Linked DNA regions of Homo sapiens: region 1 is linked to region 2. The links come from fine-mapping of genetic effects on gene expression. Tissue or cell type: whole blood. Region 2 holds a variant in brackets; the other region holds the start of a gene. All regions are shown on one strand. Distances are between the middles of the regions.

Evidence for each region. PIP is the estimated chance that this variant, and not a neighbour inherited with it, causes the effect.
Region 1: PPP2R5C starts here. The variant in region 2 is fine-mapped to the expression of PPP2R5C in whole blood (INTERVAL, PIP 0.96).

What each region holds. Positions count from the first base shown.
Region 1 is chr14:101,758,416-101,766,590 of GRCh38, reverse strand. PPP2R5C (protein phosphatase 2 regulatory subunit B'gamma) reads right to left here and starts at 4,882. Exons shown (of 16, transcript NM_001352913.2): 1 at 4,671-4,882; 2 at 3,621-3,686. The coding sequence starts at 4,697. It overlaps LOC107984658 (a long non-coding RNA gene), which reads right to left and starts at 2,512. Exons shown (of 2, transcript XR_001750901.1): 1 at 2,305-2,512; 2 at 1-1,437. RefSeq lists silencers at 4,247-4,316, 4,367-4,586, 4,727-4,966, 4,977-5,136, 5,597-5,646 and 2 more.
Region 2 is chr14:101,807,972-101,816,204 of GRCh38, reverse strand. All of the region lies in intron 3 of PPP2R5C (protein phosphatase 2 regulatory subunit B'gamma), which reads right to left. It overlaps LOC124903388 (a long non-coding RNA gene), which reads left to right and starts at 5,215. Exons shown (of 2, transcript XR_007064349.1): 1 at 5,215-5,988. RefSeq lists enhancers at 5,916-5,995, 5,587-6,169, 7,919-8,213. The variant T/G (reference allele first, on the strand shown) is at 5,076.

The DNA.
Region 1 (8,175 bases), 50 kb after region 2:
ACATGTCATTCAAGGAGTAGAAGTTTCTAGAATAAGGCAAAAGTTACAGGGCAGCAGTTATGACCTTTAATAGAACTTTGTTACACTGAAAGATACAGCCTGCCATACTTGCAGGGAAAATGTCTTTCAAGAAGGGTAACACCCAATTTCTTCCATACATTTAAAAATAGCCTAATCTTAAACTTATCAAATCATTTTAGGGATGAGAAAACAGGGTCACACAAGTTAGGTGACATCATTTATGGCAAAGCAAGAATCGGCATGTTTATTTTCTAACCCCCAAGCTGAAATATTTTCCACTGTACCACTCTACCCTATACTCCAGGACTTCATCTTTCTTACTGAAAAACCCAAACCATCAAATGTCCCCTTGTTCTACCCAAGAATTGTTCTGCAACATACGCCACCTGCTTTCTTGCTTTCTATGAGGCTGAAGACTAGACAGGCAGGAGTTTATTATACAGACCTGCCATATACTTGAAGTAGTGTGTTAAGTCAACCAGAGGCCAAGTTCTTGAATGCTTTCTCTGTTTGGATTATTTCCACGCTGTCTGGCTGCTCTGCCCTGGACAGGTCCCTGCTCTGCACATCTCTCAAGGCTGAGAAGCCCCAACTAGGGTAACTGTCCCATCAGAAGGTGAGTTCACTGGGTAATGGGAGCAACTGCTCATTGTGAAGGTGACATGATGTTAAAAGGCTTGAAAGGGGCTGCATGGTGGCTAACGCCTGTAATCCCAGCACTTTGGGATGCTGAGGCAGACGGATCACCTGAGGTCACGAGTTCGAGACTAGCCTGGCCAACAAGGTAAAACTCCGTCTCTACTAAAAATACAAAAAAAAAAAAAAAAAAAAAAAATTAGCTGGGCATGGTGGCAGGAGCCTGTAATCCCAGCTACTTGGGAGGCTGAGGCAAGAGGATCACTTGAACCCGGGAGGTGGAGGTTGCAGTGAGCCGAGACTGTGCCATTGCACTCCAGCCAGGGAACAAGAGTGAAACTCTGTCTCAAAAAAAAAAAAAAAAAGGCTTGAAAGCAGCATGGGAATGTCAAGCCTATTTAAATTGTTCAGGTTAAAATATTCAAGTTAAGAGTAATACTGAGAGAGAGGAGAGGGAAAAAGTGTGCAATAATGGTTTAATTCACCTGCATGAGTCAATCATATTTGGTAAGTGGGTGGAACTAGAAGTGAAGCAGTGAGCTGAAGACTGAGGGGAAAAAAAACAATAATAAAATTTAAGGGTCAACTCAAAGGTCAAATGAACAGAAGTGTCCCAACTTGTATTCCTGAAAAACAATTTACACAGTGATCTGCCAAGTGTCAAGCTTAATATGCCAGGTTGCCTCTGGTATCCTTATGAGGAAGCAGTGAAGGGCCCAACATTTCAGTGTTTTCAGTGGTAATTTCAAGCTCTGTAGCTCCAGCTCTTAGACAGTAGCACTAGAAAAAATACAAAAAGACAAGTGGGGCATCATACTCAGGCACTGCAGGCCACACCGCAGGTCTCACACGGCTGGCAAACTGCTTTCAAAACACACATTTCACATAGTAGTGATTTTGGTATCTTTGAACTACTGAGATTTTTCAGGTTTAAACTTAACATTATTCATCCTTACAGCCAGGATCTTCCCACTAAAAATAGAAATAAATGATATATACACACTGATGCTCCTTTGTATAAGGAATATAGCTAAAGTAAGAGGATATAGGCACATTAGCAAGAAAGCTCTGGGGAGAAGAAATCTTAGCAGTTTTAATGAAAGATCAAAAGACCAAAAAAAAAAAAAAAAAAGGCATATAGCATATACCTTCATAAAGCACCTACATTTCATCTTCATCGAAATGAATTTAGTCAAAAGGGTGACAGGGAAGAAAGAAACAAGTCAAATCCCAGCATGGCACAGTAAACCTCAGTTGTCTGCTATAAAGACAGGGAGGGACAGACTGGCACAAATGATCCTAACTATTGACATTTAAGGAATCTTTTGGATTTCTGCTTTTTGCTTTGGGGAGGGCAACAGATTTGCTGGAATAAACCACCTGCTGAAGAGGAGGGAGGTTCAGAATACACCAAATGATAGAAAAGAGAGAATGCAGGGCTAAAAAAAAGTCCACTGCAGATCATCGCCAGTTAACTGTGTTTCCCAGACAGAACTGAACTCATTCTAATTTGGCTTACAGGAAGAAGTCTGACACTGGCAAATAAACGTCATTTGTGATAAGACTGGGGCTTCAATGATCCAGTTCTGGATAACTGACACTCTATTAACCCAATTATGTGCTACCCATGGATTCAAAAGGACCTACTGGCTCTGCCTGGGTCCACGCAGCTCCTGGACCCTTGGCCCTAGGTGCTCTAGTTCAACAATTAGTCACAAGGAAGAAAAGGCAAAGGAAAGTGGTGACTCTGCAAATCCTCTGAAGGCACTTCACGGTGTGAAGGAACAGCATCAACCTTGGTCAAGTAGATGCAATGCTCACTTGGCATTCCAGCTGTTCCTCAATGAGGCCAAAGCCAAGAAGCAAAGAAATTTACAAGTGGCCGACGCGCAAGTGCGCGCGCCCACACACACACACACACACACACACAATGTGAACAATAATAAAATACCAAAACTAGGTAAATTTTTTCAAATACCAACATTATTGGAGAAAGAGGCCAAGGGACCGTCAACAGAAATAGGGAGCTAGCCCAGGACGTCAGTAGCAGAGGTGGTTTGAAGGAAAACAAGGTGATGGAAGAAAAAGAACTAACCACTGAGTTGCCTGGCAGCTTGCAATGGAAGTGGCGGTGGGGAGATGACCCTAAAGCTAAAAGCAACATAGCAACACCATAGACTGCATAAGACCAATCTATACAGGAGGGTTGCTGGGTTTGAGGTGTGGGAAATGAACTTAAAAATACCAGATCCAGGATGGGCACGGTGGCTCAGGCCTGTAATCCCAGCACCTTAGGAGGCCAAGGTGGGCGGGTCACGAGGACAGGAGTTCAAGACCGGCCTGACCAACCTGGTGAAACCCCGTCTCTAATAAAAATACAAAAATTAGCCGGGCGTGGTAGCGGGTGCCTGTAATCCCAGCTACTCAGGAGGCTGAGGCAGGAGAATTGCTTGAACTCGGGAGGCAGAGGTTGCAGTGAGCCAAGATCGCGCCACTGCACTCCAGCCTGGGTGACAGAGTGAGACTCTATTAAAAAAAAAAAAAAATTTGTTGGGTGTGGTGGCATGTTCCTGTGGTCCCAGCTACTTGGGAGGCTGAGGTAAGAGGATCACTTGAGCCTGGGCGGCAAGGGGTAGCAGTGAGCAGAGATTGCGCCACTGCACTCCAGCCTGCGTGACAAAGTGAGACCCCGTCTCAAAAAAATAAAAAACAAAAAAAACCCCAAAAGACCCACAAACAAACCCCATAGGCAAGCACAATTTTCATAAAATCATTAATAGTTTTCCAAAGCAAAACAGTAAATACCTAAACAACTAAAATTGAGGGTTATAAAAGACACCACAAAAAAAAAACCTCACATAGGGAAACATTTTAGAAGATTCTAGGCTTTATCACTCTCGGTTTTTCTACCTGAAGTTAAAAGCTGTGTATAAAATACAAAGTCAATATTTGATGACAGTTACCTCTGATTCTACTGTGTCTTGTCCTTCTTTTGAACTTTTTCCACTCTTCCCTGCTTTTGGTGATTCCTGGTAAACATCAAGCAAAGTCAATTAGTCTTCTCACTTTTTAGACAGGTAAACATCAGATAAGCCAAATGCAGTTTTAAAAGTGATTTATACAACTACAGCTTCTGATATTTTTAATTCATACCATTAGGAAATTCTATATCATACCGTTTAGGATTCCAACAGTGCAATGCCCCCCAACCCCCATTCAGATTCTTTTCGTTTTATCTGCATTTGAGGTTGAAAACTTCAAGCAGAAAACAGATAAATCCAATTTTATACAGTGCTTCTGGCATTTTGAGATCCACATCACATCCCTTTCTACCCTCCCACCCTAAACCCTATGAGTGAGGATTTCTGGGGTGATAATGAAACGCTACAGAGCTCCACCTGAAGCAGAAACATACCCGCCCCCCCGAATGCAAACGCAGCACCCTTGCTCGCAGCCCTCACCGCCGCCGCCACCCAGGATAATAATAGTGTTCGAGAGCCCCAGAGCGTCCCTCCGGGGCGGCAGAGAATTCCTTACCAGCTCTCAGCGGGGTCCCTTCTCGCTCCCTTTCCCCCGTACAGGGGTCCCTCCCCAGGCGTCTACAGCCCCCATCCCTGAAGCTCCTTTCCGGGAGCCTGCGAGGCTGCGAACCCCCTCGGCGGCCGCACCTGCCCGCCCAAGCCCACGGCGCGCTGTCGGAAACGGGCGCCCCTCCGACCCCCTCCCCGGGCCGCGCCCTCCCTCCACGCCCAGCCCCGGCCCATCACGAAGGTCCCAGCGGCCCGGGCCTGCGCCCCGCGGCTCCGGCGCGATCCCCGGGCTCCCCGCCCCCACCGGGCATGAGGCCGAGAGAAGCCCGGGGATGCCTGGCTCGGCCGCCCTCGGGGACGCGAAGCCCGCGGCGTCAGGCGGGGAACTGAGCCGGGGCCCGGGCGCAGGACCCCGGTGCCGTCGCGCCCTCCCCCGGCAGTCCCTCCCTGCTCCCTCCGTCCCGCGGCCGGGCCCGGACTCACTTTCTCCTTCTTGTTTTTATTCGGCATGGCTGGAGCGGGCCGCCGCCGCCGCCGCCGCCCCTGCCGCCGCCTGCCCCCGCAGCAGCAGCGCCCCCGCCCCGGCCGTCGCGCCCCCGCGGCCGCCGCCGCCGCCGCCGCCCGGGGACTGAGTCTTTCGCTTGCTCTCGCTTCCCCTTTTCCAGACTCCCAGAGGCTGCGGCAGCCACGGCGGCGGCGGCGGCGGCGGCGGCGGCAGCGGCGGCGTCTCTCCGCCCCTCCCCCGGCCGGCCCGCCCCGCCCCTCTCCTCCCACCCCCCGGCCGGCCGCCCCGCCCCGCCCGCCGCTCGCCCCACCCCCGCGCCCGGCCCCGCCCCGCTGCACTCAACAGCGCCCTGCCATTGGTCGACGCGCCCCCACGTACCCTAACGCTCCCCGCTCCCCCCACCCTCTCCGCGCGACCCGTTCACGCCCCCGCCCTCCGTCCCGAGTCGCTGCGAGCCGGCCTCAGGCAGGCCGCGGCCTCCTGGCGCGGGGCTGACCGCTGAGCAGAGCTGAGCCGACTCAGGGGAGGGAGCATGTGGCTGCGACTGCGGTGACAGGGCCGTGGCCCGCTGTGGAGGCGCAAGACAGAGCGTGAGACGTAGGAAATGCACATTTGAAATGTATGGCAACAACTTCTGCAGCCGGCGAAACGCGAACCGTGGCCTCTTGGCCTTGCCCCCTCACCGCCGCGGCTCTCGTTGCAGTCAAGAGTGCCTGGCACGCTTTGCACTGAGGCGCACGGGGAGGCCCGGGAACCGAGCGAGCGGCAGTTTCGCGGGACACCGCTGGGCCCCGCCTCCCCTCCCTTCCCTCCCCTCCCCTTCCCTCCTCTCCCTCCACTCCCCTCCCCTCCGTCCCCTCCCCTCGACCACCCCGTCCCCTGCCCTCCCCTTCTCTCGACCAGCCCGTCCCCTGCCCTCCCCTCCCCTCCCCTCGACCAGCCCGTCCCCTCCCCTCCTCTTCCCTCGGCCAGCCCCTCCCCTCGGCCAGCCCTTCCCCTCGACCAACCCCTCTCCTCGACCGGCCCCTCCCCTCGACCGGCCCCTCCCCTTGGCCGGGCCCTCCCCTTGACCGGCCCCTCCCCTCGACCGGCCCCTCCCCTCGGCCGGCCCCTTCCCTCGGCCAGCCCCTCCCCTCGACCAGCCCCTCCCCTCGACCAGCCCCTCCCCTCACCAGCTCAGCTTTCCGCAGCTCCTCCCGCGAGGTCCCGCCCATCCGACAGCCCGCCCCTCCCTGGTTGGTCCCGCCCTCCGCAGTTTCTCCCGCAAGGTCCCGCCTACCCGACAGTCCCGTCCTTTCCTGGTTGGTCCCGCCCTCCGCAGCTTTTGCCGCGAGGTCCCACCCACCCGACAGCCCCGCCCCTCTCCAGTCGGCCCCGCCCTCCGCAGCTCCTTCCGCGAGGTCACGCCCACATGCGCAGCCCCTCTCCTCCGGCGTCGGCCCCGCCCACCGAGGCGAGGCCTCAAAGACTTGGTGGCCGCTGCGCCAATAGGATTTTATTTTTATTCTTTAATTTGGCTTGATCATAAATGGTGAGGAAACCTCTGCATGACTGGGAGTCACCTGATTTCTCTCAGCTTGTTAATAGCTGTGAGGAGAGGGTGTCCAAGGGAAAAACGTTAACTTTTCAATACAATACTTCCGCGGTCCACCTCGTGCCCAAAACTATTGAAGACGCTAAGGACAGGCGTCCCAGATTGCAGAAATGCATTAGGTAGTAAGACTCTAGGAGCGTACGGATTTCACGTGCGAGAGGCATTGGTGCTTCACCTGTGATGATGAAGGAGCTGCATCTTAACTGGCAGCTTAAAAATCATCGCGTTCTCTTAGCCCCCGGAGTTTTGTTCTTGGAAGTTTCCAGGCAAAGCATTTTCCATTATTCTCAGCAGTTCTGCAATGAGAAAGCTGAAAGACGGGGTAAGAAAAAAAAGATCTAAAGGGAGGAATGTTGTGGGAGGTCCAGAAAGTAAGTTCTGTCTGCGGGTATCTGAATGTCTGCCGGCTCTTAGACGAATATCTGTAGGTAAGCAGGACAGTCTCAACTATTTGTGCGGAATAAGTGGCTTTTTTATTAATAATTTAAGTGGGTTAATGGTGTCTCCAAAACAATTTTGAGGATAGAGCGATGCCCCTAGTTAACTTAATAACATTTTAAAAATAAAATATGTGCTGTCAATTTAATAAGTCCAGGATATATCCATATCAAAAAGGAGTAGCTCTGAAACTATTGGTTTATGGCCATGAACTCTTAGGGAGGCTTAGAGGCATCTCTGAGACAATCCTTTGCCACCCAAATCCTTGTATCATATCTCCTGATCCGGTGTTGCATACAATTCATTCATTCGACCCACATTTGTTGGATAACTACTATGTGCAAAGCATGATGCCAGAAATTTCATGGTGAACAAGGCACTACCCTTGTCCTCAAGCAGTTCACATGCTTGCATGGAAATAGAAAAAACCAGCAATCAGAAGGACATGACATGTGACAAGTCTACAGGACTGGGGTGAGGGGGGTCAGGCTTGGAAGCATGACAGAGCACTGCACAGGACGTTTTGTTATGGCCGGAGATGAGACTGAAGGAACAGCGACGCTGAATTAAGACTGGTAGACCTTGCCAAGATATTGTACTTCTTTTTGAATGCATTTCAGGGTCACTGACAGATACTGAAGTGGGGAGTGATGTACTCACATTTGCATTTTAGAAGACATCGGTGGCAGGAGTGTGGAGGAGGTGAGGGTGGAAGTAAAAGCAGGAGGCAGAAAGAGCAATCAGCATCCAGCTATGGTTCAGGTGCGTGCCAGGGAGGCATCTCCACAGCAACGGGGGGAAGGATCGCCGACGCGACAGAGAGCCAGAATCGAGGATAAAAAGCGAATGCTCATGCTTGTAGTTTGGGCAACACAGTGAATGATGAGGAAGGGATGCAAGTGGAGGGCAGGTTTGCAAGGGAACAAGATTCCAGTTTGGGACACGTTGCTGTGTCCGCAAAATGTAGGTAGAGGTGTCCAAGATGGCAACTGGAAATATAGCATAGAGGACTAGTTGCATGTCAGGTTAGAGGTTTCTCAGGTCAGTTTAGAGTTTTAGGGAAAGCATAGGGACAGGGTACAAGCAAAGCTGCCTGATTAACATCCAGTGACCTTGAAACCATAGCAACCAGAGAAATCTGACTCAACACCATTACCTGTACAACTGCATGTGTACGTCACTGGCCATTGGACTGGCTTCATTTGCCCACATTAGGGAGGACCATCTTTAAGGACAGTTAGTTACCGACTACCCGTAGAACACACTGGGTTTCATGCAGTGTCTTAGGTGCTGTGGTATTTACAGGAACGCTAAAGATAGATATAGCTCCTGCTCCCAAAAGAAGGGATTCAGGACAAGCTATTGAGATAGGATATAAAGCCATTATGTGGGTGTGTGTGTGTGTGTGTGGCTGAGGGTTACCTCTTCCAGGATGGCCCCACATTCCATGT
Region 2 (8,233 bases):
TTTCAACCAGCCGCCTTGTGTAAAGTCTGTCACCTTTTTGGTAGTCTTACTCTTGCACTTGGGTATAACGTCTGCTCAGCAGGTTTTTGCCTTGCAGCAAAAGCCATCTCCTATATGTTTTTCATTGAAATACGTTAACTACAGCGTATAGAGGATTGAAAGAAAAATAAAGTACAGCTTCTCATGAGCTTCTCATTCCACTGATGAGGTATTTAGCTAAGAAATACATCAGATAGGCCGGGTGTGGTGGCTCATGCCTACAATCCCAGTACTTTGGGAGGCCAAGGCGGGCGGATCACTTGAGGTCAGGAGTTCGAGAGCAGCCTGGCCATCACGGTGAAACCCTGTCTATACTAAAAATACAAAAAATAGCCGGGCGTGGTGGCATGCACCTGTAATCCCAGCTACTCGGGAGGCTGACGCAGGAGAATCGCTTGAACCTGGGAGGCAGAGGTTGCAGTGAGCCGAGATCACGCCACTGCACCCCAGCCTGGGTGACAAAGCGAGACTCCAACTCAAAAAAGAAATATAGTAGATAGCTATTTCCTGAGTGATCACTCAGAGATAACTTTTAATTTTTAATCCACTGACACTAACTGATGCCTCTACTCTAGGAATAATGCTCAGTGTCACCAGAGAACAAGTTCAACAGGACTGTCCTCGGGATACTCCTGATTTTGTGGAGGAGGTAAGTCAACAGTTACTAGCTGGCAGATTTGGTAAGTGAACTGGGACAGCAGGTAAGATTATCAACTTTCTCCCTGCACACCAAGAACATACGCATGTAAACCTTTAACAAACTCCTATTCAACCCTGAAATGAGTTTTGAACTCCAGACACTCAAATCCATTACCACTGTACAGAAAACAGTAAAAATCAAAAAGTACCTATGAGGTGGGAGCTTTCACCAGCATCTCTCAACACTCTGATGTCTGCAGAGCAAAGAACATGAGCTTTGCTATCAGACTGACTGAGGCTCAAATCTTGTTTCACTACATTCTCTGTGGCCCTGGGCAAGAGGCTCCCTTTTTTCTCCCGGGGGGACAAAAAAGGCAGGGGCGGTAGTGAGTGGGGGAGGGTTATAATGCCTCACAGTGTTGGGCAGATTCAGAGAGAGAACAGAGGTACAGGGTTTCAGCTGTGACCTAGCACACTGAAGGCACTCAACGTATGCTGCTTCTCCTCTGGGACAGCCACCAGCAGCAGCTTCGGGACCTCGTACTTGGTGCTGCCAACAGCCCTGGACTGGACCCTCTAGGCTGGGTGACCTTGGGGAGGAGAAATACTAGGATTGTCCTGCTCACCTGCCAGGCAGGAGTGCTGTGAGGAAGAAGTACATGAGTGTTCACAACAGCTTGTCACAATTGGCAAAGTGCTGTAGGATCCAAAAAGAACCACCTCGCAATTTTATTTGACATATGGAACCAAAAGTTAGGATGTATCCCAAACCACTTTGTCTTTGTGTTTCTGTCTATTCTTTTCCTGGGTTTAAAAACACACACCCTATTCTTGACTAATAACCTTACCTCTATTTTTCTTTCATTCCTCTACACAACATACTTTAATGAGAAAATTTTAGAAGATAGCTTTTGCTGCAAGGCAAAACCTCCTGAGCAGACATTAGACCCAAGCTGGATGGTAAGCTTTTGTTTTTGCCTCTGAGATTGAGAGCGTATGGATGAGGGAGGTGGATGAGAGTGTGTTTATGAGCATAAATGTGTGTGTGTTTAAGGAACAAAAAGGTGTACAGACTTTACACAAACATACCCACCCCTGTTTCCTCAGAGAGTTATCTGTTACTTTGGTTACCTTCCACACCACCAGGAATACGAAAGAAACAACTTCACACCTAGGATACAGGATTGGATACAGGATAGGATATGGGTAAGGTTAAGGCTGTAGTTCTATAAAGTCACTTTGCAGAGAGCTGCAGTTACATAGTAAAGAGATGTTTGTGAAGTAAAAATCTTGAGCTGAGGCACTGTTCAGAGGATCACTGGTTTAATTATTTGAAGAACTGTTTAGTCATCATTCAAACATTTTTCCTTCCTAATTTTAGGGAATAAAGATAACAGGGGGCACCCATTCTCACTAGTACTTACTGACTTCACACCATGCAGGTGTGTTACTAATTTAGCAACCCATGTGCATTATGTATAGCTATTGTTATTATTAATATAGGTTAAGTCACCAGATTTAGCGCAGCAGGAAATGAAAGCCATGGGTTTGAGTTCTGTGCTTGCTTCTTGCATGTTTTTTAATGAGTTTTTATTGGAAAGGTGAAGACCTTCAACAAATTGGTGACTCAGGAAGTACTTGTGAGAAAATAAACTTTTCCATTAGACTTCCACTTCCCAAGAAAAAATGGGTTTACATCAAAAGAATGGTTTGTTCTCCAACATCCCACCAGGCTGGAGCTACTCCTGAGTCTTTCAAGGACAGACTCATCCACTGGATAAGTTTGCTAATGACTAGAACAAGATGAGAGCAGTTAATAACATTCTTGAAGCCCAGAATAAGGGCCAGCTGGAAAAGGCTCAAACTGTGTGCTTCCTCTCTGGCCATTACCATCTTTCCGGCTTGGCTGTCACTGCCTTAAACCTGGCTCCTGAAGTGAGCATGCGCTGCAGGGTGGGAAGTGGGCCCACCCACCACGCCTCACAGCATCACGGCTGGCCCAGCTTCCCAGCACAGGGAGGAGGCACTAGACTGAAGGCCTGCAGGAAACATGCTTTCCTATCCTTAACAGGCAATTCCGAAAGTCAAAGAACAGTCTAGAACAGAGTTGGTGAACTATGGTCCATGGGCCAAATCCAGCCTGTCACCTGTTTGTCAATAAAGCTTTATTGGACCACAGTTATGCCTATTCATTTACTGTCTATGGCTGCTTTCACCCACAAAGCCAAAGCTACTTACAATCTGGTCCTTTTCCAAAAAAGTCGAACAATTCCAGTCTACGACTGTGCTGTCCAATATCCTAGCCACAAGACAGGTGTGTCCACTTAAATTTACAATAACTACAGTTAAAAATTCACTTTCTCAGCTGTATATGTTAAGTGCTCAGCAGTCGCAGGTGACCAGGGGCTGCTGCAGAGGACAGCACAGAACATTTCCACCACAGCAGACAGTTCTCCTGGACACAGCTGAGAGTGAGGATTTATGTCACCAAGCTACATTCACAGCCATCAAGTTCCAGGTGACTCTCCTTCTACAGACAGAAGGGCTTACACTAACTCTCAAAAATATGTCCCTTTCACACTCAAACTTATTAGGATGTGCAAATTCACCATTTTAATCGCAAAGTCCAGACTACTTGGTAGACAATAATGGTCAAAGCGATCGTGACAACAAATCAGGTGATCATTTTCCTTACTTACTTACTTGGTCCCCACCCTGATGGATGGTAAACTGGGAAAGCTGGGCCATAGCCCCTGCTCATATCCACATTAGAACCCTGCCTGGCATGTGGTATGGATCAATAAATATTTGTAAAATGATTAATAAATGAGCCCAAGGTACAAAACTGTTATACAAAAAGAGGCTACCGAGCCAAATAAATGGTAAGGCATTGGGGAAAATACCACTACTGTAATCCTGTAGCAAAATGTTCTTCAAGCAGCCAACATTCCTATTTTAAAATGATTTTTTTAAAAAGATCCAAAACAAAACAACACAACAGTCTGGGTTTGGATTCTGGCTCCACCACTTCCAGGCTGTGTGACCTTGGGTAAGTTATTTCTCCTTCAGTGGGAAAGACCCCTCCTTCCTAAATAAACGGGAAGGACAGCGCATGCCCACCCCATCCGAGTGAGCAGGGTAGCCCAGGGTGCAGCCCTCCTTGGTTCCTTCTGCTCCTGACACCAGCCCCTGCTCTCCCGGGCACCCTGCCGGTGTGTTCTTGCTTTAGCCCTCTCGTGGCAGAGCTCCTATGCTGGGTCTCTCCATTCGCTCCTTTGGGACAGGGGCTGCAACTTAATCACTGTAATGACGCTCAGCACTTGGCACACCGGAGCTGCTCAATGGATGTTAAGCTAAGACTCTAAGGCCCAATAAATAAATCAAATTTTGCTAAATCTCACATTAACATGCTCGCTCCAGAAAAGTCTTTATGAGTAAATCAAGCGTTCTTCAAATTTTGAAGTTAGAAATTACCCCCACTGTTTGAGTCAGAAGTTAGTCTTAGGTCTCCAAAGTTATCCCTTCTTAAAAACTCAAGTCTCTTTCAGGCTAATACACTTCACTGCTTTTTCCCTCCACAATTATACAGCAAGCAACCAACCACCCAACCAACAGCAACAAATACAAACTGGCCATAATAAGGTCTTGGAATTTTAAAAAAAAAATCAATGTGGTTCAAGACACAACGTGAAATGATTCTATTTCAGAATAAGTTCATAATTCAAAAACTGAGTAGTATATTAGGCATCTAATAAAAACCAGAAAACACAAACCAAAAAGATTTATGTTATTTATAAGTGGATACCTTAAAAGTATAAAAATTTACATTTTATATGCAGTTAATTTATCTTACTGCTAACTAGTTCGTTTTTAAGAACTAACTTGGCCAGGTACAGTGGCTCTTACCTGTAATCTTAGCACTTTGGGAGGCGGAGGTGGGAGGATCGCTTGAGCCCAGGAGTTCAAGACCAACCAGGGCAACATGGCAAAACCCCATCTCTACAAAAAATATTAAAAAATTAGCTGGGCATGGTGGTGCGTGCCTGAAGTCTCAGCTACTCAAGAAACTGAGGTGGGAGAATCACCTGAGCTCGGGAGGTGGAGGCTGCAGTGAGCTGTGATCATACCACTGTACTCCAGCCTGGGTGACAAGAGTGAGACCCTGTCTCCCAAAAAACAAACAAAAGCTATCTAACTTAAATCCAAACAATTACATTTTGTTCTTGCCCATTTGGTTCTTGCAGCTAAAATACCTGAATGTTACCTGTAGGCAACCTTTGCTTTTTACTGGGTGCACTACAAAAACAATAAATTCACAGCCTGTCCTACAATTTGGTCATTGAATGCTGATTTCCACCTTCATGAAAGATAGTTTGGAGAGAAAAGCACCACCCATT[T/G]TATTCCAGTAGATTGAGTCTGCATGTGCCTGGGTACACCCTAGGATCTGAAAAGTCTGGCCTGGCGTTTTAGTCATAGAGATTATTAGTCACCTAGAAATCTTGCTCCCACCCTTCCTTAAAAGAGATTCTGAGAAACAGTTTTGTTGGGGCACAGCTCTGATACTATAAATTCTAAAGTGATCTGATGAAGCTTAAAATCATTTTTCTATTTCACCCAATTATGACCAAAAAAAAATTCATATATCTTAAAATACCAAGAATAAGTAGGCTACTACCCTGATGCCTGTAGTTCAATATAACCGCTATTAATTACTAGAGTAGTTGTGCTTTTAGGCTAAGTTTTGAAACCAAAATATGCATAAAAAGAAGCAAACTAATTATTAAAACAGTGATCTCTATATACCTTGAAAACTTGTTGCCATTTAAAATTTTAAAAGCCAACTGGCAACACAGAGCCTATTTAAATGCAAAATATTTCCTAATATTCCACGAAAACGCTAACATTTCAAAAATGATGACCCACGATAGATTTCAATATTTCAAAGTGGAGCATATTTCTCTCTCAGGCTCCACGGCAAGAATGAAAACAATCCTTTTAAAGGAAGTTCTTTTCCAATCAATTGTGCATATTTTCTGACTGCAATTCATCTTTAATTCTGAGATGTGTCCTCGACAAAACCTTTGCAGCATTAAGCCACACATATGTAACAGAAACTCTGCGTACGAACAACTTGGCCAGGCGCGACAGGCCCGCCTCTCCTTCCTACCCCCACCCAATACCTTCCCTGGGCAGTGACTTCACATCCTTTGACATCAGCACAGCTTTGAAAGGGGGATGGGAGAGCGAGCAGAAAGCAGAAAAACCAGCTTTGAACTATGCATGCAAGGCCTCTTTCAAGCCTCAAATTCTGTAAGTAGTTCGTAAAATGCCAAACTGCAGTGACACACCCAACCTCCTCTGGTTAAGTCTGCAGCGAAATGGGGTGAATTCTGCTAGAAAGGACTTCCTGCTTTTCTTATCTGAAGCACAATAGCCATTTATTAACTACCCACGGAAGGTTCCGATTCAGTGAAACACACAATAACTTACCTCGAATATGGAGAAGGACCACGGGCTGGAAAGGCCCATTGGAGTTGGCCGCATCCACCACCATCCTGCTGCCCGCTTTATTACATGTCAACATCTAGACTTCAGCGGGAAAGGCAATGGGCTCCTTAAGGCAAGAAACCAGCCTCCATTTTAGTTTAAAAAAAAAAAGACAAACTGAAGCTCTCTGCAGCTGGAGGGAACTGGCTGGTTCGTGATGTCAGCAGGCATGAAGCTCGCTGATTGGCCGGAAGCTGCAACTTAAAATGACACTAAAAAAACTGCAAACGGAAAGAGCGTTCTGTTTGGCTGTCAGTGTGCCTTAAAAGCTGGGATATTTTCCGGCTTTTTGCAGCCTTCGTTTCTCAGTAACTTTTAGGCAAAGATCCCATCTCTTAGGGGGAATACTGGAGGCCACAACCTTGGCCAGACTGTAAACAAATGATTTCGAGGGAGCCACCAAAAAAAAAAAAAAAAAAAAAAAAAAGTGTGTGTATATGTCTGTGTGAACTTTAGCATTTCCCAGTGAGGGATCCCAAATTCATTTTATACCCACCTGTGCAACTTCGACTTGCTAGTTCTAATTAATATCTGCATCTTAGGTAGGATTCTGGCAACCCAGTGTTTTTTTTTTGTTTTTTTTTTTTAACAAATGGTTAAGCAAATATTACACAATTCTAATCCATTAGTTTGGACTCTTATTCAACTTCCCTTACCAATAGGATGAGTTATTAACTTATGATCCCAAACACTTTTTTTCTTGAGATCTATTTTTTCCCTGAAAAAATTAAGCTTAAAAACTTACGTAGAAAATGAAAGCCGCTTTATAAATTCGATAGCTAGAAAGTGACACAAATTGAAATATTTATATCACCTGGCCGTGGGAGTAAGAAAGCAAAAAAATGAAATGGAGCATGTTTATTTTTGTATTGCAAATATGCTGACATATTAAATACCTTTTAAGTTTTAGATATTTTGTTTAAATTTAAAATTAAAGATATTTTCACTTATTTTTATGGGGCTATTAAAAGCTGCTATTCAGATCTAAATTTTCTATCTTCAAATACAGTTAATGTAAAAAGCTATTCCAAGGAGAAAAACATTATTTCTGAATTGGATGGAGTATTGCAGGATCCCATGAGGGGGTGCGGTGAGATGATTCCCTACAAAAATGAGTGTTATTAGTAGTTCCAAATGAAAACGAACTATAAGAAAAGCCTCTTCGGCAGGTGGAACTGAAAAAAATTCCTCCTTTCTTCACACCAACAAGGAAGTTTGTCCAAACCATGGCTCCTCATTTTTAATAGTTTCTCACACAATTCCCCTGCTCTCTTCCCCCCACTTGTGAAGGATACAAAAGCCCTTTAGTTCCTAAACATAATTCACAGTAGAGTAAGAAACACCTGAAATACAGCTAGGGCTCGCAGTTCCAGCTGAGGGTTTAGCGCCAGATACATTCAATGAGTAAGGGAACTGCTACCGCCCTTCAGGGCTGCTAATCAAGTCCTCCCTCACAAGAATGTAGCTTTTATTGTGTGTATCAATAGCAACTAAAATAAATAGATAAAAGCAAACCAAATCCCACCCTTCCCCCTCTTTCCCCAGAGCTGACAGACAGTGCTGGATTCCATGGCCGGCCAGGAGATGATGTGATTTCTAACACAAGTGGGCAGTGGGCACGCACCACCTGAGCAGGCTGCCGGCCTCACACCTGCTCTGACTTTGCTGCTATCTGAACAGCAGAATTAATTTTTTTTTTAAAGAGCACGTGCTTTCAGTTGGGTAAGAGGAATTTAGATCTTAGCTGCCCTCCTGCCTCTAAGCCTTCACTGCTGACCTGTGGGTTGTCTGTCTGGAGGGGATGGCCACCGATCACCAACGACCACTAGGAAGCAGTGTTGATGACTCTCACTGCCCCACACCCCAGCCTCCTCCTCCTCCTCCTCCTCTGAGTGATGCCAGATGAACTCAGACACAATTAGGAACGAGGCGTTCAGGGGCTCAGGAAGGAGCCCAGGAGCAGATGCTTATTGAAGATCTGGGCTTTAAGGAGACAGAGACCTGCCCT